3 separate regions of the Homo sapiens genome follow, and regions 1 and 3 are each linked to region 2. The links come from fine-mapping of genetic effects on plasma protein levels. A gene starts in region 2. Each other region holds a variant in brackets. All regions are shown on one strand. Distances are between the middles of the regions. Region 1 overlaps PZP (PZP alpha-2-macroglobulin like). Region 2 holds the start of PZP (PZP alpha-2-macroglobulin like). Region 3 overlaps PZP (PZP alpha-2-macroglobulin like).

Evidence for each region. PIP is the posterior inclusion probability: the model's chance that the variant is causal. Protein levels are from antibody-based Olink assays in UK Biobank. Linkage for the fine-mapping came from a reference panel and not from the study's own genotypes, which makes the PIPs less certain.
Region 1: its variant is fine-mapped to the plasma level of the PZP protein (UK Biobank, PIP above 0.99). The variant lies in the coding sequence of PZP. If it changes the protein, the assay may bind it differently, which can mimic a change of level.
Region 3: its variant is fine-mapped to the plasma level of the PZP protein (UK Biobank, PIP 0.95).

The regions. Positions count from the first base shown.
Region 1 is chr12:9,161,341-9,169,529 of GRCh38, forward strand. PZP (PZP alpha-2-macroglobulin like) reads right to left here. Exons shown (of 36, transcript NM_002864.3): 16 at 8,090-8,189; 17 at 7,529-7,634; 18 at 4,712-4,862; 19 at 3,799-4,027; 20 at 2,793-2,919; 21 at 2,328-2,449; 22 at 1,257-1,308. It also overlaps a transcript of KLRG1 not described here. Among named protein-coding and RNA genes, the nearest start is that of PZP, 43 kb to the right of the region's middle. The variant A/G (reference allele first, on the strand shown) is at 3,848.
Region 2 is chr12:9,204,600-9,212,788 of GRCh38, forward strand. PZP (PZP alpha-2-macroglobulin like) reads right to left here and starts at 3,796. Exons shown (of 36, transcript NM_002864.3): 1 at 3,660-3,796. The coding sequence starts at 3,742. It also overlaps a transcript of KLRG1 not described here.
Region 3 is chr12:9,185,961-9,194,149 of GRCh38, forward strand. It overlaps PZP (PZP alpha-2-macroglobulin like), which reads right to left. Exons shown (of 36, transcript NM_002864.3): 11 at 8,117-8,189; 12 at 6,552-6,779; 13 at 6,233-6,296. It also overlaps a transcript of KLRG1 not described here. Among named protein-coding and RNA genes, the nearest start is that of PZP, 18 kb to the right of the region's middle. The variant A/T (reference allele first, on the strand shown) is at 5,029.

The DNA of each region.
Region 1 (8,189 bases), 43 kb before region 2:
TATTGCAGTTATTTTATTATTAGAGTTAGCAGTAATATTATTATATCTCCTTGTGGAACTCTGGGTGCAAGGAATAAGAATTTGACTTAATGATGAGACTACCTTTGATAGTCTAATTGCTTTTGGCACTGTGTGACTTCCAGAGTCCTTCCTCTTCTCATTTAACTATATTTTTGCATGGCTGTGCTCAGTAGCTTTCTAAAAGAAGCCTAAGACTTAGTGGGGGAACTATCGCTCTCCACTTTTGTAGCAATATTAAGACTTATAACCATGATAATACAAGTTATTTTACTGCCTCCCTTACACTATATTTGAATGGATTCCCATGTTTATAAATAGATAACATGAATATACCTTAAATTAGTCCTTCTCAAATGACAAATACAGTGCTGTATACACTGTGGACATAGAACTAATAATGTGGCGGTTCTGTATAAAAGCTACAACTACTTCTTAATGATATGATGAACTTAAATGTAAATTATTTTCTACACGGAAAACACACATTTTTAGTGAGATGGGTAGGAAATGCTATATGTTTTGTCAGCAGCTGTTTTAGAGACTATCTCTTGGGATTCAAACTTATCATGACCCTGCTGTCTTTAGTTTTTGTTGTTGTTGTTGTTTGCTTGTTTGTTTTTTTAAGAGTCTCACTCTGTTGCCCAGGTTGGAGCGCAGTGGTGTGATTTCGGCTCACTGCAACCTCCCCCTGCCCGGCTCAAGCGATTCTCGTGCCCCAGCCCCCCATGTAGCTGGGACTACAGGCGCCCGCCACCAGGCCTGGCTAATTTTTGTTTTTTTCGTAGAGACAGGGTTTCACCATGTTGGCCAGGCTGTTCTCAAACCCCTGACCTCAAGTCATCCTCCCGCCTCAGCCTCCCAAAATGCTGGGATTACAAATGTGAGCCACCACACCCGGCTAACCCTGCTCTCTTTCTACCTCATCCTGGGACACTCTAAGCTTCTGCAGCTGGGCTTGTCAGTGAGCAGCCACTGGGCTATCCAGGTAAAAGGGCTACGTATGAACCAAGAAAGCCCAGGTATTAGTCCTGTCTGTACCACCTGAGTCACATTAACTTGCTCTCTTGGGCTCAATGTCTTCATCTGTAAAACATACATAAAGAAATATTTAGTATTATGCTGACTTTCATGGAACACTCTGAAAACTGGGAGATAAAATGAATGTGCATTGTAACTTGAGGTTTATACCCCTTTGTGGTTTTGATCTCACTATGATTATGAAGATGGACTCTTACCTGAGGCACAGGTCATAGAACTGAAAGTCTTTTCTTGCTCAATACCTTCAGCCTTGGATGAAAGGAAAGAAAAGGAGAAAAGATAGAAACATCCTGGTGACAAGAGAACCACATGGATTCCTTTCTTTGATGGGTAGGGTTTACACGAATGATGTTTACCATCCTACTCTTTTTTTCCCAACTTTTGTTTTAAGTTCAAGGGGACATGTGCAGGAGGTGCAGGTTTGTTACATAGGTAAATGTGTGCCATGGTGGTTTGCTGCACAGATCATCCCATCACCTAGGGATTAAGCCCAGCATCCACTAGCTATTCTTCCTGATGCTCTCCCTTCTGTCACTCCCACTCTCAGACAGGCCCCATATATGTTGCTCGCCTCCATGTGTCTATGTGTTTGCATCATTCAGCTCCCACTTATAAGTGAGAACATAACATCCTACTTGTTATTGAATTATTACAAATCCATAAAACATTGAAGAACCAGGGAGGGTGGTAGAGAGAAAATGGGAAGAGATAATAAGGGCAGTAAATCAAAGCTAATGGGTATGAGAGATATGTGAATCTTAGGAGAGAGGTGGAGATCAAGAAATTGCGCTCAATGTAATCCCAGCACTTTGGGAGGCCGAGAAGGGAGGATCACGAGGTCAGGAGATTGAGACCATCCTGGCTAACATGGTGAAACCCCGTCTCTACTAAAAATACAAAAAAAAAAAAAAAAAAATTAGCCAGGCGCCTGTAGTCCCAGCTACTCGGGAGGCTGAGGCAGGAGAATGGCATGAACCCGGGAGGCAGAGCTTTCAGTGAGCCGAGATCGCAACACTGCACTTCAGCCTGTGCAACAGAGCAAAACTCCGTCTCAAAAAAAAAAAAGGAAATTGCACTCAAATAATTTGTGAAAAAAAATTTACAATAGCTGGCAATGTTGTCTGCTGCAATGCTTTTAGGGCAGGAAATTCCATTAGTCTTACAGGATGTATTGTGTGAGCATGATATTAATGGTTCTTTGTTGTCTCAAGAGTGACCGCCCGGTGTTGCATTCTTACAGTTGTTAGGGACTCCCAAAAATATGTTACCTCCACCAACAGGGTTTTGATGACTGTGTCTTTTCTTTTAATCTCAGGGACCTCAACAACCTCATTTCCACAGAGTTCTAAGGACTGCATTGCCTCTGCACTCACTGAGAAGTTCACATTCCCTAAAACAAGGAATATTGAAAACATGAGTATCCACTTTGATAGTCCAATCACCTTTAAGGGCTGCACCTTAAACTTATAGTTGTCCAGAATAGAAAATAAGGCTAAAAAAAAAGAAACCCACAAGGTTAATGTATACTAAGTAGCCAATGTCCAAGATAGTGATTCTGGGGACTAGCTTGGGTGAGAACAGTGGGAGGAGGTCATAGTGGATAGAAATAGGAAAAAAAACTAACTTTATAGAATTATATCTATGGCAAATAAAAGAGAGAATATGATGAAAAAAGTACTCAGACAGCCACCGTCCTTGTTGATTGATAGGCCCTTTTGGGTACTGTCACTCACCCAGAGTTTTAGGAGTCACTGTCCAAGACAAGGTTTGTCTCTCATTTCCACAGATACAATAGGATTCTTCTCCCTTTGTATTTTGGGAAGCTAGGAAGGCTGGAGAGGCTTTCAGCTGCACACTGACCTATCACCCCATGTGAGGCAGAGACAGAAATGATCAGAATATGGAACGACACGAACACATAGAATTGGGGCCAAGTGTGAGATGCTGCAGTAAATTGGGATTTGTAAGAAAAATGTATGTCACATAGATTCATCCATGCTTTAAGAAGCATGGCAATGGCAATGATACAAATCAAGATTGGTTGTGTATTAGGAGGATTTGGCATTTGCCTTAGGGTAGCTTGTGGACGTGCAGGCTTGGCAGTGGCAGAGGAAAGGGAAAAGCAGTGATTGTATATTGCCCTAGGGAATACTATCTGCTGCTATGTAGATTTTCATAGTTTCTTCCTTCCTTTCTTCTCCTATTTCTTACAACATATATTACATGTCTAATCCATACAAGACATAAAACACTGGGAATGGTAGATGAGAGGCTCCCGATCTTGAGGATATTGTGTCACAAGAAAGATGATCTATATACAACCACTATTACATAATTTACAAAGAGATAAGTGCTATAAGATAAATTAAAATTATATATTTTGGAGATTTCAAGATGACGGGTTGGAGAATGACTCTCGTGGAACTGAGAAAGCTGAGTTGTGTGTCAGCTTCAAGAATGTTCCTGGCATATAACCTAACTTGCAGCAAAGAATTCTGCAAGCGCTAAGAAATAGAAAAGCAAGGTGTGGCTTAGAGAGCCGTGATTTAAGCACCCATAGCACATATATCATTGTATTATCTTTCTGATCATGTCCTGCTTTGCATAGCACTAATTATTCACAGTGCTAACACACAATCCCTTGAATTATCCTTAGTCTCAGGAACAGAATCAGTAGCTGACTGATCAAAGGAATCTTTTGTTCTACCCACCTTTCCTGTTCACCCTCATTTTCCTTACCCGGATGCATTTGGGAAGGTAGTTTAGGACCGTGGCCTTGAGTGTGAAG[A/G]CCTCTCCACGAATCACAGAGTAAGGCATTGTGAGCTCCACAAAGAAGGGCTGGAAGGCTCGGAGAGAGGCAGTGGAAGAGATACCAAGTCCAGCATCTTCGGACAGGCAGAAGGCCCCTGCCTTCCACTCGGTGATGGTGTCAGGGACTGTTACTCCTACCTCAGCCACACCTGATGAGCTGGGGAGGAGGGCAAGTGAAGAACAGAAATAATGAATGTAAGCCACCTTTTCTCAAGTGAGAATTAATATGCATAAAGCTAACGTCAAGAACTGAATCCACTTAAGGGTATATGCGAGTGTGCATTCGTGTGAACACTAGATTATGTCCTGGGATCTGAGTTGGGAAAATGAAAGCCACTGAATGGTACCTCTCCCCCTTATCAACAAATGATCATATCCCACATGTCTGTACTTTGAATAAAAATATTTGAATTGCGATTCATTTTAGTCCTTAACTTCCCTTGCTATTGTATAATCCCATAAATAAGCATTTTTAAGAATCATGACCAACAATTAGACCACTGGATTAATGTAGCCTGATTTGTTTATGTGCCTGCTCCAGCCCTGATATTTACAGAAGGCTCCCTGAACGACATTAAGCAGTATATATAGAACTGAATATTTATAGTTCTCATGTCTACTATTTGACAGTATCAGAAATAATTATTTTAGAATTGCTCAGCACTGAGACAATTGTATTAATGAGCCTATGCAATTGCGCATTTTACTTAGGTCTATCCTAAAGAGGAAGAGGTTAAGATAATTATTCAGAACTTTTCAGGAAGATTGTCTTAGAATTGAAAATGTTGGAGGAACCACATTCCCTCCCCTCCAGCAAATGGAGGAAAGTAAAGTTACTTACTTCACTGCCACCAACTCCCAGATCCAAGTCTCAGGAAAATAGCTTCGCACCGTTTCAGGGACTGGCCCTGAACTTTGTTCATTATTTAAGGGTATCACATTATATGTGCCTAATTGAGGAACATATGGTCTCTCTACTACTCCTAGACCTGCTAAAGTAAGAGAAAATTGTCTAGTTAGGGAAAAACATTCATTAATTTCATGGTGCACATGTGAGACGTTAGAGAACAAAATTTTCAGTTTTCCTGCTCAGACTGTCCTAAAAGTCTTGTAGAAGTTGTAGAACTTGGGAAATACTTTGTGATCCCTCATTCCCTGAAAAGAGAGGAGTCTTTGTCAAAGGTGGAAATTCTATGTATCCTAGACATAGCATAATTTGATGTGAATGGAAGCTGGAAAAACGAGATCACTTGGAGACAGTTTTATGGGTTTTGTGGCGAAGGACCAATTTTGAAATTGAGACAGTATTGCTTCATTCTTAGAGAAACTGAGCAGGAATTGTAAAATGCTCTTTAGACATTGAGAGTGGTTGCTATACTAAAAATGAAATTACCAGTGGAGTGAACAGAATTTAATGATTTACATTAAATTACTTTTACATAAATTAAATTTACTTTAAATCACTGTATGGAACTTTGCAAAACTGTTGTTCTCTGGGAAATAAGATTAGAGCATTAGATTTTATTCCACTTATTTTTTGACATCTGAAATAAACAATTCAGTTGTCAAAAACAGATATTTCCATTTGGAATGGCTGTGTGGTTCAGACAAAGAAATCATTTACCAACGTGAGAGGGTGGAGAGCTAGACATGAAAGCAATTTTGTCCACGTTGTGCCTGAAATCATGCTTACTAATTGAATTTGATTTAAGATCTCCCTCCATGTATCCCATCTGATATTTCAGAAATACCTTGTGAAAGAATACTTACAAGGAAAAATATATTTCTAGCAATTTCACCCTAACAGTTTTCTCCACTGAAGAAAGCATCAGTAGTAATTTCTTTAGTGAATATCATACACCTTGCCCCATGTCCTTCCAAGTGGTAACAATTTCTATCTCTGACTCTGATTTCTCACTGTTTTGTCTTCTCTGTCTTCACTCTTATCTTAAATATTGAAATATCTAAAAGGATGATGCACCTAAATGAACTATTTTCCATTTTCTACTGGATATGTCAAGGGCCCTCCAACTCCTCCAGTTATTGCAGTTAACAAACCATGGCATTATGTGTTATTTCAACTCCATTTAGTGGACCATGGCTATATCCTTCCTACTCTTACTGTCAACTTGACTTTCCACGTGTCCTTTCATAGTCTCTGCATCAAAGCTTTGTGTATCAGACCCAAGACCCTGGTGGCATGGGCTCACAAGGGTATCTCCTGATCCATGGGTTGCAGAGATCCTTGGGAGAAATGTGATTTCCCAGGCGAGGTCGCACAATCACTCACCGCTTCCCTTGGCTGGGGGTGGGGGTTCCTTCCGTTGCCCTCCCCCACCTCCACCCCTGCTGCTTTTCATTGTTCTCTGTAGTCATGGAAATGGCTTCATGTTGTTGAAGTTCTTATCAAGAAATTTCACAAGATATTTCAGTTTTCTTAGCTCTTTTATTTCCTCATATACCTGATTCATTTATAGCTACTAATTTCAATCCCTGTTATGTATTCATCACACATTTTAGAAGCTCTTTTTTTCCTGAGTGTTATTATATGCCGTCAATTTTCCATCTTGAATTTAATAAATTCAAGAACATTTCCTTCCCCCCAAACCTCAATGGTTTAAACTTGAAGTTTGTTCTATGTAAATCTCATGGCTATTTTCCTTTCCCTTATTCTTTATTCTCGTTATTTATATAACATCTCAGTTACAAGACAAAATCATATTTACCATTTTTGAGAAATTGTTTGAAATTTGTGCTATCATTGAAGGTATACTTAAACAGTCCATGGCCCTTTAAAAGGTGTCATTTTCTTAATAATAAAGCTCATTTAAAGATGGATATTAATCTTAAATGCCAAGGAACATAGAAAATGCTATTTAAACAATCAAAGTTCTTAATTTGTGTTGGTGCATTATATTTAGTTATCTTATTGGGCGTTTTGCAAGGTCTTGAAGAGCCATTAGTCAAATTCCTTCAATTTATTAATGAAGGATTTGAGGCTTAGAGAGGAGATATGACACACCCACTTCACATATAGGATATCTGATTTCCAATCCGAGCATATAAATATTTGTGAGCAGATGGATGTCAGGGATATTTTGGAGAAAAAGGGAGTTGGATTCATGAGAGAGGGATGACAAATGGCTGGGTAGTGTTCAAGTGTAAGTAGACCTGGTGATGGGACAGATGTTTTAATAAGTTCAAGGGTGTTGAAAAAGGCTGCTGTATTTGAATAGTGGTTTTGGCCATGGATTATGAGATATTTCTGTGATGTTCACGTTGTTTCTTGTCACCAGTGAAGCCCTTTGTCCTTCTTTATGTTTTTTAAAATACAGCATCCCTATGAATGTCTTTCCTGTTTCCATAATCAGAATTACTCTTTCTTTCCATTGTCAGCATTTTCCCTCTCTTACAGTACATCAGAATCTTGTATTTTATCTGATTTTGTGCCCTGAAGTATCGGATGTATCTAAAAAAAAATCTCTGATCAGTTCTAGCTATCACCAGCTAAGTCACCTCAGCAAGAAACAATTAATTTGAATCTTGGTTTCTTTGTGTGTATAAAGTGGAAATAGGGCTACATTACCTCATTTTAGCATTTTGGGCATAGTAATATTGTTGGACATGAAATAAAATTAAAAGCAAATTGCTGTTTTACCTCCATAGTATCCTTGACCTACTGCTCCTGCAGACACGGAAGGGATGACTGAACACGACTTTGGTTTTCGGATTTTTGAGTTAGTGAACACCTTCAATCCCATCCCCTGGAAAAAAATAATTGTTCAATCTACTTGTAAGCTTGATTAGAATATATAAAACATATTATCCTTAGAGACTTCTCTATGTAATTCCAGTATCCTTATATTAATTCTATGGCGAAACACTTGACAGTAAATATAGAGTAGTGAAATTACTAAACTTATGGATTATTAAGATTTTATTCTTTATTCATTATTTTTTGGTTTGCAAATAAAAAAACCTAAATATAACTAAAAAGTATCCAGATGAATAGGCAGAGGTTAGATCTAGCCCTGACTCACATACTGAGCTTTTGTGTGATCCTCACAAGAGACTTTAACCTTTTTATTGGCTTCATTTTTGTCTGCTGAAAAATGGAGAGGCAAGGCTACATAATTACTAAGATTATGAATAGATACAGAGTTTTATTAACATTCAAAAACTCACAAGCCAGCATGTTAATAAGTAGTGAGAATTTTACCTTGAGGAAGCTATAAATATCTGCTTCATTACTTGATAAGGGAACATAGATGGCTCCATTATGAATGAAGAAAGGACGGGGACAGTGTCCTTGTTCTTCC
Region 2 (8,189 bases):
AATTTTGTCAATTATTTACATGCACAACTCCCTGCTACACACACACTACACAAACACACACTGTATTTTATTATCATTTCCCTTTATGCTCAATTTCTTGAGGCAATTAACATTAATAATTTAATATTAGTATGTCCATGTTTATAAACATGTTTGTTTCGAATCACATGGGTGGATAGGTTATCTTTTCAATAAAAAAAAACAAACAGGTTCAGGCTGGGAGAAGTGGCTTATACCTAGTTCCCGGCACTTTGGGAGGCTGAGGCAGGAGAGTCACTTGAGGCCAGGAGTTTGAGAACAGCCTGCACAACATTGTGAGGTCCCCCATCTCTACAAAAATTAAAATAAAAAATTTAGCCAGGTGGCACATGGCTGTAGTAGCAGTTACTCAGGAGGCTGAGGCAAGAAGGATCACTTAAGCCCACGAGGTTGAGGCTACAGTGAGCTATGATTGCACCAGTGCTTTCAGAGTGACAGAGTGAGACCCTGTTTCAAAAAAAAACAAAACAAAGTTTATATGAGTACTAAAAGTCATATTATTTTGAAAAGTCTTTTCTTTTTTATTTAAATTGTTGAAAGTTTTCAGTTTTTCAGAGGCACAGGCAATTTTTTGTGTAAGCCTCACATTCTGGCCTTAGCTTTATTGATGAGTGTCCTTTGTCTCTAATGCCCCCCACTCCATATTTTCCTGTCACTTTCCAGAAGCCTCCAATTCAATATAATCTCTCCACACTCTGAAATCCCATGGGCTGAAAGAGAATGTGTTTTTGTTGTTGCTGTTTTTGAGCATCTGCCACATGACAAGAATTGTTAAGCTGTCTCTGTATTAAGCCATTTAATCTTCCCAGCAATGCTGTAAGGTACATGCATGATACTCTCCATGTTCATGGAAGCTAAAACATGAGATCCTCATCAGTCCCCAAAACTTGAATCCATAACAGATAGATAAAATCCCTGCCCCCATGCCAAATCAGTAAAATCAGTAAATTGTGACTAAAATGTAACTCTTCAAAGCTTTAATGATTCAGTGATTCATGATTCAATATCTGCAGGGTTAGGCCATTTATAGAGTAAATTTGCAAGTAAAAACTATTATTTTCTTATATTATTTTACTACCCTTACTTTCCATTGCCAACATAAACTCTTACTTTTTAAATTGTTTTCTGGACAGGCAATTTGACACAAGAAACCCAATATTGTTGCTTTACAAAATTAATAGGTGTGAGACTAGGAGGAGAGAATCCAAGGATAATTGAGTTGTGGAATGTGGAACTCAAATTTGGTCCCCTCATCCTCCATGTAGTCTGCTCCAGCACACCAGTCTTGCTACATGTGTTTTAAAGTGTTCCTGGGCAAAACTATATGCCATGAATCTCCAGGGCCACTCTGAAATCATCCAAGTTTCAGATGATTTTACTGTATGAGTAGTAAGGTTTTGTTCTCTAGCAGAGAAGCTGAGGGCAGTTCAGTAACTCACTGATAGTCATTCAGCTAGTCTCTTATGTCTTAATCTTTTTCTGGTATCTGGATGCTTCTGATCTCCTGATCACTGCTCTTTTAACAGCATAATAAATAATAAAAATGTATCATTTTTTACATCCCCATCAAAAAATTTTTCCTTTAGTTCTTTGATCTTAATAAGAAGGTATATATATATTTATAATTTATTTACTATTTTTATTCTTATAAATTATAAGCCTAAAAGATATCACGATTAAAAATTAATTCCACATATATTTGATATTCTAAAGAACTATTTTATATGAGTTCAGTTAATATTTTTTTAACAGATATTGAAATCAGAACAAATCCAGGTTGACAAACTTGCCCAAGATGTCATTGGTAGTGAGCTGCTAAAATGTTTTAATATATGTTTACTCAATCATGAATGTTTGCATTTTAAATATTTGCCTCTTTAGCAGGGACTAAATGTAGCAAATATTAAAGTGATAACTTTTAATTTTCTCTTTTTCATTTTATTCCCCTGAAACCTTCATCTTTCTGAAGCTTACTGCCCCAAGGCAGGGGAGAATGGCTATTGGTTCTCTTTTGTAGTCTCTCACATTTATCACATCAAGGGTTAATTCTGGAGGGATGAAGTTAAGTTTTCTCCTTATAAAGGGAGAAAACACCCCTTCTGCTTGTGACAACTAGGGCATGAGGCTTGTTGTTCTTTGTTCAGTGGCAGACACAACGTAAAAGGATGGTTTCAATGGCAGCATGGTCCAATGTAGTGTAGGAATGCATCCAGAACCACAAATTGCTTAATGTTTCTGACCCAATACACGCTACTCGCTTTATCCATTCAGTCTGCTCTCAGAAAGCAAAATAGCCTCCACATATTCCCATATGCTTTCTGGATGGAGAGCAGCTGGAAGTAGTAGAGCCCACTGCTGTAGATGAGGTAGAGGGATAGTGGGGGAGAAATGTACCCCTACCGGTTGCCAGGAAATTGTGCAAGGAAAAAGCCTGAGGAAAGCAGGAGACTTACTGGATTGAACTCCTTATTTCTGCTTTCTGCGCTTTGGCCTGAAGAAGGCTATTTGTGTTAGATGGATAAGGGTAACACACAGAGCAGAGGGACCCCTTATCCCTTTCCCGATTTGGGACTCTGAAGACTTCCCTGTATCAGTCTGGAATACAGGAGACACGATAGGCATCTAGAAGTGCAGTGTGGGTATGCAAGAGAGAGGTAGAAGTTTAACCTCTCCAGGACACCTCAGTGCCTATGTGCTATTATTGGACCCAAGAGTTCTCACCATTCTCTGGAAGAAATGTAAAGGCAGCTGGGTTAAGGCCAGGGACCTTAAATGGCCTGGACTGCAAAGGGGCAAGGTGACCCTGCATCACAGGCTGTGTTGAAACAATAGCCATAGTATTTGAGGCAGGATGCAAAGGTAGGAGTTCTATGGGATATGAAACAGCTGAAGTGAGACAGTCAGTTAGAGAGGACTGTTGGGTCCTGAACACACAAGAGAAACCAGATGGCTAAACTTCAACAGTGCATGCCAGCAAGTAAGGAGAAGTCAGACTGACAGTAGCCAAGAAGGACGGAGAACTTTGAGACCAAGGACTCTGACAGTTTTCTCTATTAGGAGTTAATGGAGACCACAGTTCTCTAGACACTATAGAGGAGAGGAACTGGGGAGAGGTGGAAAAGAAGTCTTACAATTATTGAGTTGTACCAACTTACAACTGGATAGGGTTAAAATTATTTTCCCTGCTTTGGTCCCCCACTGGGGGCTGTTGGTGAAGACTTGATACATGATTGAAAAATAAAGGAGCTATACTTTCTGTATATATATATATGGCCTACAATACATGTTAAGTTGCACTTCACTATATATTTCGAATATCTCTATATTCAGTGCCTTCCATCCAAAAGAACTGTTCTGTGAAGTTGGGATCTAGTGTTTTATTTAATCATGCTTCCTAGTGACTAATCGTATTTATGACTCTGATTGGCCCAGTGTAGAAAAAATGATTTCAAGAATAGAGGATAAATGAAAGACAAACAAGGGATTAACTGGAATAATTTCTTATATTTGGAAGGTATTGTAATGAGTGGAAAGGTGGCATTTACAAAGGAAGGCAAAGCGAAGACACAAGGGAGAGACTGAAACGCACTCTGGAGGAAGGGGTCTTGAGTGAGACTTACGGTTCTGTAGAGTTTGAGTCACTGGCAGAAAGCAGGATAAGAAGTAGCACAAGACATAAATGAAGAAGTCTGTCTTTCCGCATTGTGAGGGATAAATCTCAGGGTTGTGTCCAACTCTCTGCCCTCAGCCTCGCCCTGGAGACCAGCTGAGTTTACCAGGCTTTATGTGGCCACTATGTACAAACAAGCCCCACCCCAAGGCCTCTGAATAGAGTTCAGAATTGAGCACAGATTCCCTAAAAGGGTCATTACTCTCAGTGGTTGCCTCATTTTTCTCAAGGCTAAATTCTGATAGGTACTGAGGCATGTCTGGAAGATAAAATTTGTATTCCATTTAGAATGAGCTTTGACAGCAAACCTCCTGATAAGGAACCTTCAACCTACCTTTCTCCATCTCTTTCAAAATCCTTACAAGCAGGTGACAAAGGATGCTGACAAAGAATGTCAGGGACATGTTACCATGATAGTAGCTCATGCATTGCAGATTCATTTCTGGGACTGAGTGAGTTATAACTATAGACTTTAGGGTTTTTGGGTTTTCTTTTTTAGCAGTTGATTGAGTACATGGTCCTGGAAGAAAGTGATATAAAATAAGGATTTCAAGAGTAGAGGATCAATGAAAGATAAAAGAGATAAAAGATCAAAGAGATTTTAGAAAGGAGTTATCAAAGATCACACTTGTCTATTTCACAGCATTGACCTGATCAGATTCTTAGTTGATCCTATCTGTCCTTGTTACTGTCTGAGCACTCTAACGTTTGAGTCCCTTAAACCATGTCATTGACTTTATCTGAGATTTTTTTTTTGAGCCATACTGTGTGCTAAGTGCTATTCTGGTGATGAAAATACAATATTGAACAGGATATTCAGTATCCATGCTCTCATAGAACTTGTAGTACAATGATGATCACATATAAACCACCAGCAGATTTAATGCCATCCTTAGACTGCAGACATTGGTGTCTGTTTACATACTGTATTGCTTGAAACTTTTTAAATCAACTTTCTTTCTCTTTCTCCATATTTCAGCCTAATCATCCCTTCTTTGGAGAGCAAATTCCTGGCCACACTGCTGAAAGTGGATTCCTTCCTATTAGTTTTTATTTCACATCTTTGTTTCTTTTGTCACATTATCATAGAATGAAATAATTTCTTTTAAATTATGAAATGTTATATATATATATACTCACAAATATAGAGAGCAAGATAAAAGACACTCGTACCTTACATGCACCCAACTTTAATAAAATTAAACACTTGCCAAGTTTGTTTAAGGTCATTTCTTCTTAAGAAATGAAAGATGGCAATGGTAGTGCTCTTTTAAAATTTGTCTAGAAGCTTTTCCAGTTTTTACCAGATCCACCAACCCAAAAAAAGAAATAAATCAAGACAAATATGGTTGGAGTTTCCTTTGTAATTCTCTCCAATCTCATTTCCCTTCCAATGTTGTGGGATTAGGAAGTTGATATGTATTCTTCAAGATGTGTTTATGTTTTTAATCCATATTTATGTAAATAATATATAGCATAATTTTGTGTTTTGTATTTTATATGTATAAGTGGTATGCACATATTGTAAAATATGTCATCACTATTATGGTTTTAAGACTTATTAGCATTGATAATGAGGATAAAATTTATTAATTTTAATGACCATCTATACGACATTCTATTGTATGAATGTGGCCGAACCTGTTACTCTATTCCCCTAGTGCTGAATTTTGGATTCTTCATAGTTTTCAACATTACAAATAATACTGCTACAAATACGGTATGTCTACTTAAGCATATTTGCAAGACTTTCTCTAGGGTATATAGCAGAGATTGGGTTATAGGCTATATATGTATGTACATCTTGAAATCTATCAGATTGGTAAATTGCTCTTCAGAGTATTACATGGATTTGAATACCCATCTGCAACAGTGGATATTTTCAGTTTATTATATATTTACCATCGTTTTACTCTGCTAGGCATTTTACTTTTTATCAATCTGATGAGTGAAGCAGTATCTTGCCTTAATTTTCATTATTAATGACTTTACACATCTTTTCATATGTTTATGGACCATTTGAATTCTACCATCAGTTTGATATCTCAACACAATATGTAAAGGGTCTATCAGGAACATCTCCTTGCCCCAGTTTCATGAGCCTTGGACTCTAGACGCTGCAATTTTATTTACTAAAGGCTTTAAAATGTGCTTCTAAATCTCTCAGCCAAATATTCTGGAGCTGTTAAATACCCTAAGGGGAAAGTGCCCTTAAACACAGAATTGCCCCTTTGGGTTGCTATGTTGCTTCTGAACTTTGGATTCATAATTCTTCACAGTCTTTGCTTTTCAATACCTCCAGTGAATATATATATAACCAACCATTCCTAATTTAAGTGGGAAGTTTGGTCTCAATTACCTTGTATACCATTACTGGAAAGGAAAGTCTTAAGTGTGTATTTTTATTTTATATAAAGAGTATTGGAAAAAGACCTTGCCTGTTTCTTATTCTTTTTAGTTATTGCTAGTTTTAAAACATCCTCCCATGTTTATATGTTTATATGTATGTATTTTATTAATTGCATTTTATTACAGTATAGCCCTCTTTGGTGATCATCCAAGAGGTTTAATGTTTCCACTCTCCTAATGATAAAAACAGGATTGTCTCTATTGTCCTGCCATGAGGAAATAATGCTTTGATAAATATCTTTTTACATATACCCTTTGAGACAGGTAAATCCTCTTGCAAGACGCATACACAGGAGTGAGATTGTTGTATGAGAGGCATGTACTTAAGTGACTAAATAGTGACAAATAACTCTCCAGAATGGTTGCATCACACCACAATTCTACCAGTAGTGCATGAGGATTTTCGTATCCCCATATTGCCACCAATACTCTAGCTTTTACATTTTTCTTCCAGTATTCCTTTAAATAAGCTTTCTGCTCATTTCCCTCTTTTCTCCTTCTAGGACTCCCATAATATGTGTATTTGCATGCTTGATGGTATTCCATAGGTCCCTTATACTTTCTTCACTCTTCTTTAATTTTTTTTCTTTTTTCACCTTTAATTAACTATTTACATGACCTGTCTTCAAGTTACTAATTCTTTCTTTTGTGTGACTGTGTTTGCTGTTGAAGCTCTCCATTAAAATATTCAGTTCTGTTCTTATATAATTTTTGTGTGTTTTTTCTTAATGGTTTCTATTTCTTTATTAAACTTCTCATTTTGTTCATACATTGTTTTTCTAATTTTATTTAGTTGTCTATCTGTGTTTTCTTGCATCTTACTGAGCATCTTTAAGATGATTATTTTGAATTTTGGGGGGAAATTTGTAGATCTCCATTTGGGGTGGAGATTAGTTACTGGAACTTCATTGGTTTCCTTTGGTGGTATTATGTTTGCCTGGTTCATCATTATCTGTGTAACTTTGCATTGGTTTCTATGCATCTGAAGGAGCAAACACCTTTTCCCATCTTTATAGACTGGTTTTACAGGTAAAGATCCTCAGGATCCTCCTGTTGGGTTCCCAGGATTGACAAGATTGCTTCCAGAATTGTGGTCAACTGGAGGTAGAGCCAGGTCACATGGTTTTGCTGGGTCAACAGTGAGGTCTGTGGTTGGCAGGCCTGTTAACTGGGGCTCTAGTAGGCTTAGATTCTGTCTGTTCCCTGGGTAAATTGGACTGCCTCCTAGACCTTGGTCAGTAGGTCTGGCACTGGGATGAGGGTCTACTTTAGAGTCCACAGATTGTAGGCTAGTTACGAGATATGTGGATGAATGTGGCTTCCTCTGGGTCCTTAGGAGGGCTCCTACTGGGTCACTGGGTAGGTTCCTAGGCAGACAGTGCTGGTCCAGATTGCAGCTGAGAGAAAAGAGAACCAAGTAACAGGGCTGCCTCAGGGCCTACAGCTGAGACCCAGGTCTTCAGGCCTGCCTCTGGGTTCATGAATGGGCATGTGTCCCACTGGGTCCCTGAGTGGGCAGGCCTGCTCTCAAATCACAGATGAGAGGGCCTGGAGCCAGTATACAGTGCTGTTTTAAGATCCACAGTGGGACCAAGTTCAGCCTACCAGGGCACTTGTGAGCATTTCTCCCATTAGGTCCCTGTGAGGGCAAGACTGCTCTTAGACTGCATCATAGAGGAGCTGGTACCAGATTTCAAGGCCATTTTAGGATTCACTGTATAAGAAAGAAAGTAGCCAATCATCTTTTCTAGTTTTTTTATGTTAGTTATTTTCTTTCATTAAATGTTATAACTAATATGTATAGTTGAGGCCATGGTAGAAACAGTAGTGACAAAAAACATAACTGTCTATGCAAGATAATAGGACAAATGTTTTCCAAATGAGGAAAAGAGTAGTTTTGTCTTAAAATATCTGATTTTTCCAGAATGTGAAATGGGACAGTGAAAGAGAAAATCTGAATGAATGTGCAATAAAGTTTGCAGGAAAGGAAATTATTTCCTTCATTTATAACATTGAATCTGAAAAAAAAAACCAGTAAATTTTTTCCATAGTTGGCTATTTTTTACAATTT
Region 3 (8,189 bases), 19 kb before region 2:
TCACACCTGGCTAATTTTTGTATTTTTAGTAGAGATGGGGTTTCACCATGTTGGCCAGGATGGTCTCGATCTCCTGACTTCATGATCTGACCACCTTGACCCCCCAAAGTGCTGGGATTACAGGTATGAGCCACTGCACCTGGCCAACATTCTTAAAGAAAATAAATTCCAACCAAGAATTTCATATCTAGCCAAACTAAACTTCATAAGTGAAGGAGAAATAAGATGCTTCTCAGACAAGGAAATGCTGAGGGAATTTGTTACCACCAGATCCAACTTGCAAGAGCTCCAGAAAGAAGCACTGAATATAAAAAGGAAAGAATATTACGAGCCACTACATAACCACACTGAAGTACACAGACCAGTGACACTATAGAGCAGTTACACAAACAAGTTGACAAACAGCTAACAACATGATGGCAGATTCAAATTCACGCATCTCAATATTAACCTCTAATGTAAACAGACTAAATGCCCCAATTAAGAGGCACAGAGTGGCAAGCCAGATGAAGAAGCAAGACTCAGTGGTATGCCGTCTTTAAGAGACCCATCTCACATGCAATGACACTGATAGGCTCGAGATAAAGGAAAGGAGAAAAATCTGTCAAGCAAATGGAAAATAGAAAAAAGCAGGGGTTGCCACATGCCCATCAATGATAGACTGGATAAAGAAAATGTGGCACATATACACCATGGAATACTATGCAGCCATAAAAAAGGATGAGTTCATGTCCTTTCCAGGGACATGGATGAAGCTGGAAACTGTCATTCTCAGCAAACTAACACAAGAACAGAAAACCAAACACCACATGTTCTCACTCATAAGTGGAAGTTGAAAAATGAGAACACATGGACACAGGGAGGGGAACATCACACACTGGGGCCTGTCGGGGGTGGGGGGCTGGGGGAGGGATAGCATTAGGAGAAATACCTAATATAGATGACAGGCTGATGGGTGCAGCAAACCACCATGGCACATGTACACCTATGTAACAAACCTGCACGTTCTGCCCATGTATCCCAGAACTTAAAGTATAATTTAAAAAAAAAGAAAAAGAGAAAAGCAGGGGTTGCAATACTAATTTCAGACAAAACAGACTTTAAACCAAGAAAGGTCAAAAAAAAAAAAAAAAGACAAGAGAATTGCATAATGGTAAAGGGTTTAATTCAATGAGAAGACCTAACTAAACAAAATCTACATGCACCCAACACAGGAGCACCCAGATTCATAAAACAAGTGCTTAGAGACCTTCAAAGAGACTCAGACTCCCACACAATAATATTGAGAAACTTCAACACTCCACAGACAGTATTAGACAGATCATCAAGGCAGAAATTTAGGATCTGAACTCAGCACAGGACCCAAATGGATCTGATAGACATCTACAAAACTATCCACTACAAAACAACAACACATACATTCTTCTCAACTGCACACGGCACTACTCTAAAACCGATCACACAATCAGACATAAAACTATCCTCAGCAAATTTAGAAAAATGAAATCATACACTCCACACTCTCGGACTACCATGTGATTAAAATAGAATTCAATAAGAAGAAAATCACTCAAAACCATACAATTACATAGAAATTAAACAACCTGCTCCTGCATGACTTTTGGGTAAATAATGAAATTTTGGCAGAAATCAGGAAGTTCTTTGAAACCAGTAAGAACAAAGATACAACACACCAGAATTTCTGGGACACAGCTAAGGCGGTGTTAAGAGGGAAACTTATAGCACTAAACATCCACATCGAAAAGTTAGAAAGATCTCAACTTAACCTCACATCACAACTGAAAGAACTAGTGGGTCAGCTGTGCTGTGCAGGTGATCCATGCTACACCCTAATCACTACTTGCTCTTCGGAACCTGAAAGTTACAGCAACGGAAGCTTCAAGATGGAAAAAATGGCAGCCAGCCTCACCCTCTGTGAGCTCCGTCCCAGGGAAATGTAAAGTTGCTACCAGCCTGAAAACCCTGATGGGGGTGGGGTGGTGGTGGCTGCAGTCCCAGGTTGTGGGGTTGCCCCCATGAGGAGAAGTGGGACTCACATAAAAAATAGTCTGGCCAAACGTCCTTGATGAACATTGATGCAAAAATCCTCAACAAAATATTTGCAAACCAATATTCCTGATGAACATTGATGCGAAAATCCTCAATAAAATACTGGTAAACTGAATCCAGCAGCACATCAAAAAGCTTAGCTACCGCGATCAAGTAGACTTCATCCCTGGGATGCAAGGTTGGTTCAACATAGGCATATCAATAAATGTGATTCATTCATATAAACAGAACCAATGACAAAAATACGATTATCTTATCAGATGTAGAAAAGGATTTTAGTAAAATTCAACACCTCTTCATGTTAAAAACTCCCAATAAACTAGATATTGAAAGAACATACCTCAAAATAATAACAGCCATCTATGACAAACCCATGGCCAACATCATACTGAATGGGCAAAAGCTGGAAGCATTCTCCTTAAAAACTGGCACAAGACAAGGATGTCCTCTCTCACCACTCCTATTGAACACAGTATTGGAAGTCCTCACCAGAACAATCGGGCAAGACAAAGAAATAAAGGGCATCAGCATAGGAAGAGAGGAAGTCAAACTATCCCTGTTTGCAGACGACATGATTTTATATCTAGAAAACCCCATAGTGTTGGCCCCAAAGCTCCTTAAGCTGAAAAATGATGTTAGCAAAATTTCAGGATACAAAATCAATGTACAAAAATTACTAGCATTCCTATACACCAACAACAGTCAAGCCAAAAGCCAAATCAGGAATGCAAGCAATCCCATTCACAATTGTCACAGAAAGAATAAAATACCTAGAAATATAGCTAACCAGGGAGGTGAAAGATCTATACAATGAGAATTATAAAACACCGCTCAAAGAAATCAGAGATGACACAAACAAATGGAAAAATATTCCATGCTCATAGATAGGAAGAATCAGTATGAAAATGGTCATATTGCCCAAAGATCTCTACAATGAGAATTACAAAACACTGCTCAAAGAAATCAGAGATGATGCAAATGGAAAAAATATTCCATGCTCATAGATAGGAAGAATCAATATCATGAAAATGGTCATATTGCCCAAAGCAATTTATAGATTTAATGTTTTTCCTATAAAACTACCAACGACATCCTTCACAGACCTAGATAAAACTATTTAAAAATGTATATGGAACTAAAAAAAGAGCCCAAATAGCCAAGGCAATCCTAAGCAAAAAGAAGAAAGGAGGAGGCATCACACCACCCAACTTCAAACTATACTACAGGGCTACAGTTACCAAAACAGCATAGTACTTGTACAAAAACAGACACACAAATCAATGGGACAGAATGCAGAGACCATAAATAATGCTGCACACCCACAACCATCTGATCTTCAACAAAGCTAACAAACACAAGGAAAGGACTCCCTATTCAATAAATGGTGCTGAGATAACTGGCTAGCCATAGGCAGAAGATTGAAACTGGATCCCCGCCTTACACAATGCACAAAAATCAACTCAAGATTGGTTAAAGACTTAAATGTAAAACCAAAAAGTATACAAACTCTGGAAGACAACCTAGGCAATACCATTCTGGACACAGGAACTGCAAAGATTTCATGAAGAAGACACTAAAAACAATCTCAACAAATGCAAACATTGACAAATGGGATCTAATTAACCTAAAGAGCTTCTGCACAGCAAAAGAAACTATCAATAGAGTAAACAGACAACTTAGAGAATGAGAGAAAACTTTTGCAATCTATGCATCCAATAAAGGTCTAATATCTAGCATCTGTATAGAATTTAAACACATTTACAAGGAAAAAACAAACCACCACATTAAAAAGTGGGCAAAGGACAGGAATAAACACTTTTCAAAAGAAGATATACATGTGGCCAACAAGCCAATGAAAAAAAGCTCAATACTACTGAATATTAGAGAAATGCAACTCAAAACCACAATGAGATTATCATCTCACATCAGTCAGAATGGCTATTATTAAGAGTCAAAAAATAACAGATGTTGGCAAGGTTGTGGAGAAAAGGGAATGCTTATACACTCTTGGTGGGAATGTAAATTAGTTCAGCCATTATGGAAAGCAGTGTGGCGATTCCTCAAAGAGCTAAAAACAGAACTATCATTTGACCCAAGAATCCCAGTACTGGGTATATATCCAAAGGAATATAAATTGTTCTGTCATAAAGACACATGCACACATATGTTCATTGCAACCCTGTTGCAATGAACAGTAGCAAAGACATGGAATCAACCTAAATGCCCATCAGTGGAAGACTGAATAAAGAAAATGTGGTACATACACACCATGGAACTATGCAGCCATAAAAAAGAACGCCATCATGTCCTTTGCAGGAGCATACATGGAGCTAGAAGCTATCATTCTTAGCAAAATAATGTAGGAACAGAAAACCAAATATTCCATGTGCTCAGTTATAAGTGGGAGCTAAATGATGAGAACATAATGGATACAAAGAGGACAACACACAGTGGGGCCTATCTGAGGGTGGAGGGCGGGAGGAGGGAGAGCAGAAGACATTGAGGCCTATTGGAGGGTGGAGGGTAGGTGGAGAAAGAGGATCAGAAAAAATAATTATTGGGTAGTAGGCTTAGAACCTGGGTAACGAAATAATCTGTACAACAAACCCCATGACACGAGTTTACCTACATAACAAACCTGAACATGAACCCTTCAAACCTAAAATAAAAGTTTTAAACATAATAATAAATAATAAAATTTGAGAAGATTTCATTATTTAAAATCTCAATTCTGAAAATTAAATAGGCAAATAATTTAGGTAATAATAATTTGGACAGTATGAAGAATAGTGTGAAAAGAGAACAATATGAGGAAGCTCAACTTGGACAATTTGAAAAGTTTTAAAAAGTTGAATTTAGACAAATTGTGAATAAAATTTGTTCTTTTATCATAGAGGTGTAAGTGCTTTTGATAATTCTTTGGTGAAGAGTAAATCGGTAATTAATAACTATTAAAAT[A/T]TGTGGTTAAAATTGTTTTATGATGAAACAATTATGATTTAATTAGCTATATAGAGAAATTTTTTCCAATTGTTGACTCAGCTACTTTCAATAAAATTTTGTGGCATCTTCACAAAGTAAATGATTAAATAACTAGTCCTCATTTTACTATATAGAGATTTTCATACAGACTCTTCCTGTTATGAATAAAATTCAAATTGGAATATTATAAAAGAAAAAATCAAATAAATGTTTTAAAACCTTTGATTATTTCTGTGAATGTGATACATAGACCAGTATTAGAAGAAAATTATTCAACAAAAATTGAAGAACAATGTACACAGTGGGGTCCATTCTCCATATCTAACTACCTCTACACTAGTATTGGGAAAAAACTGATATTCAAAACTGGCAGCAGTTTTTAATGTTTAATTAAAATAATTATTAATTATTAGAGTACTGATTAATAATGCATAAATTTTAACTTTCTCAAAATTGTTTCAATTTTCAAAACTGAAAAATAAAAATTAAAAATTAATATTTAATTTTTCCAGCTTAGCAGGAAGAGAAACTACATAAATAGAAAATATTAGGCATGGAGCAAATCCTAATGGTTATTAAGTTTAGCTTAGGGGTGTGGTGGAAATTGGTAAAATGTTTCCCTTAGTTTAGGTTAATTACAAAAATGTTCACGGGTTCTCTTTTCAGTGGTTTAACCTCTAGATTATTTGACTTAGAATAGAAAACGATCTTGGTTCCCCAGGCCTCAATTTATTCTTGAAGTGAATCCAATTTCGTATATAAAGTACTCATGGCCTGGCACAAGAAAAAAAAATCTATCACCTTTCTTCCTTCCCATTTCCCATGATAATTACTTTTTTCTTCTCTGCAATGTTAATTTAATCAATGTACACTTTATTGGGGGTGGAGATAAATAGAAGGCAGCTTAGATTTTGAAAAGAGCTTTGTTTTGCTGTTAGAAGAAACAAACTAAAGTGAAAAACTAGTGTACCTTAGCAGAGTGACTGATACAGAGTAGACAATCACATTTATCTGTTGACTGTTGAATTTTAAAATGCCAAAGAGTCATAAGACGAGTATTTTCCTGCGTGTCCTCCTTATTGTGAAGGGATGATGGAAACGATTTCCCATTTATGAACTGTCACCGAGGGAAGGGTAAGGATGTGTTAGGGGAGCAAGGAGAGATGAATCTGAGGATACTCACTGTCTCCTGACTCCACAGGCAGAGTGTGGGTTCCAGATCTGACGATGACTCCCTTAGCCATGATCTGAAATGAAAAAACAGTGAAGGAAATTTCTTGAGCTGGACACAGTTCTCAGCCTTCTATTCCCCACATGACCCACTTTCAGTTGTCAAGTCTGTGCTGGAGAGAATCAACCTCAAGAAAACTCATGGAATGAAGGACGCACAACAAGAACACAAGGTGGCTGTGTGCAAGTAGTTTATTTTGACATTCCTGAGCCTATTGACCACTTTTGTCCTACTGATAAGCTGCAATTGTATTCCATGGCCTCATTCTTACCAGGTAATGGAAACTGAGCTCCGATAACTCTCCCATGGCCTGTCTATTCAGTGTATAGTGTGCCGTGATAGTCTCCGTGTGGCCACAGGGCAGGGTACCAGCCACAGGCTCCAGGTGAATGTAACTTCCACTTAAGGAGAAAACACGATTTGCAGTGTGCTGAGCACCCTGGTGGTCTTCTGCTACCCATGAATAGTGAAAACACAAGTTGGGATGCACAGTGAAAACCTGAGTAAACAGAAAAGCAAAGAAAGAATACTGTCTTGAAATTCTTCACCTTAGCTTCTCACCAAAATGAATAGTTACAACGGTGTCTTCCACTCTAAAATACACTATGCCTCTCCCTCATACTGGTCGACAGCCAAATAAATGAATTTTCAGTCTCCCAACATTCAAATATTAAAAGGAAATCATCCACAAATTTATCTCTTTTGCCCTGATTCTGCTAACTCATTACTACTTTGACATTTTCCTCCTGCCCCTCAGAACTAGAGGAAAAATGAGAATGATAAATAACTCAAACAAGTGGAAAAGGGATTTTTCAGATATTAGAATTACCTCATGAATTGGCTTAATTAAAATTAGGGTTTGTATTAATAAAACATTCTATTACCTTATGAGCTTCAAAATTGTTTTTAGTAATCCTTAGTAAATTAGCATTTATGCCTCTTATCATTATTGTGACTTCCAACCTTTAAGACCTATGTGATTTCTGAAACTTTAAGCCTTGCAGATAATGTTTTGCGCACAATTCTATTTCCCTTGTGGTAACTGCTCCTTAGCTTTTCTTCAAAGTGCACTTATTTTTTTCTAAATTTATTAGGCATATTTTGTGGACTCTTCTATTTGGTCTCATAATAAAGTTCCTATTTAAAAAAACCTTTTGCGCATAAACACATCATACTAATAATTTACAGATCTTTTAACTCCATGAAAATAGGAAATTTTAAAGTGTAGGGACACTATTTAGTCACCTTTTAAATCCTAGGGAGAGTGAGTGTCTATCACATAGAAAACATTAAACATCATTACATGTTTTTAAACTGAGTTAACACGTGAAACTGAGAAACAGAAATAATGTATATGTTATTTATTGACACTGAAATCCATAAATTATAGTCTTTTATCACTTCTTTGAGATAACAAGCATGAAAACTTTTTAGCTAGGGAAATCTTTTGATCATCGTCATTAGACAGTGTATATTAAGTGTGTGTGTGTGTGATCACTTTACAAAATTTCTAAGTGACCTGGAAAAAATAACATAAAACAAAGTACATGAATTACTGAAGCAGCTGATATTGTTCACGACCCAAATCAAATAAGATTTTTTTCATACTATATAAAATGTTACAGATAATGATAGTGAAATTATCAGGCACTTCTGCAGTGCCTTTTCTAATGCCTTTATTGTTTTTCATGAAATTCTATTATCCTCAAATTTGTAAACTCAAAGTTAGATATCTTCTTATTTCTTACTCTTAAATGCAATCTGTACATTTCTTCTGAATATATCACTGTTCCTAACATTTCCTTTGTCCTCAGAGATTTGTCTTTCTATACTTACCCGGACAAAAAGTTTATTAACCGAGATACTGGTAGTATTGATTGAAAACTGTGCAAGACCCTGCTCATTGGTG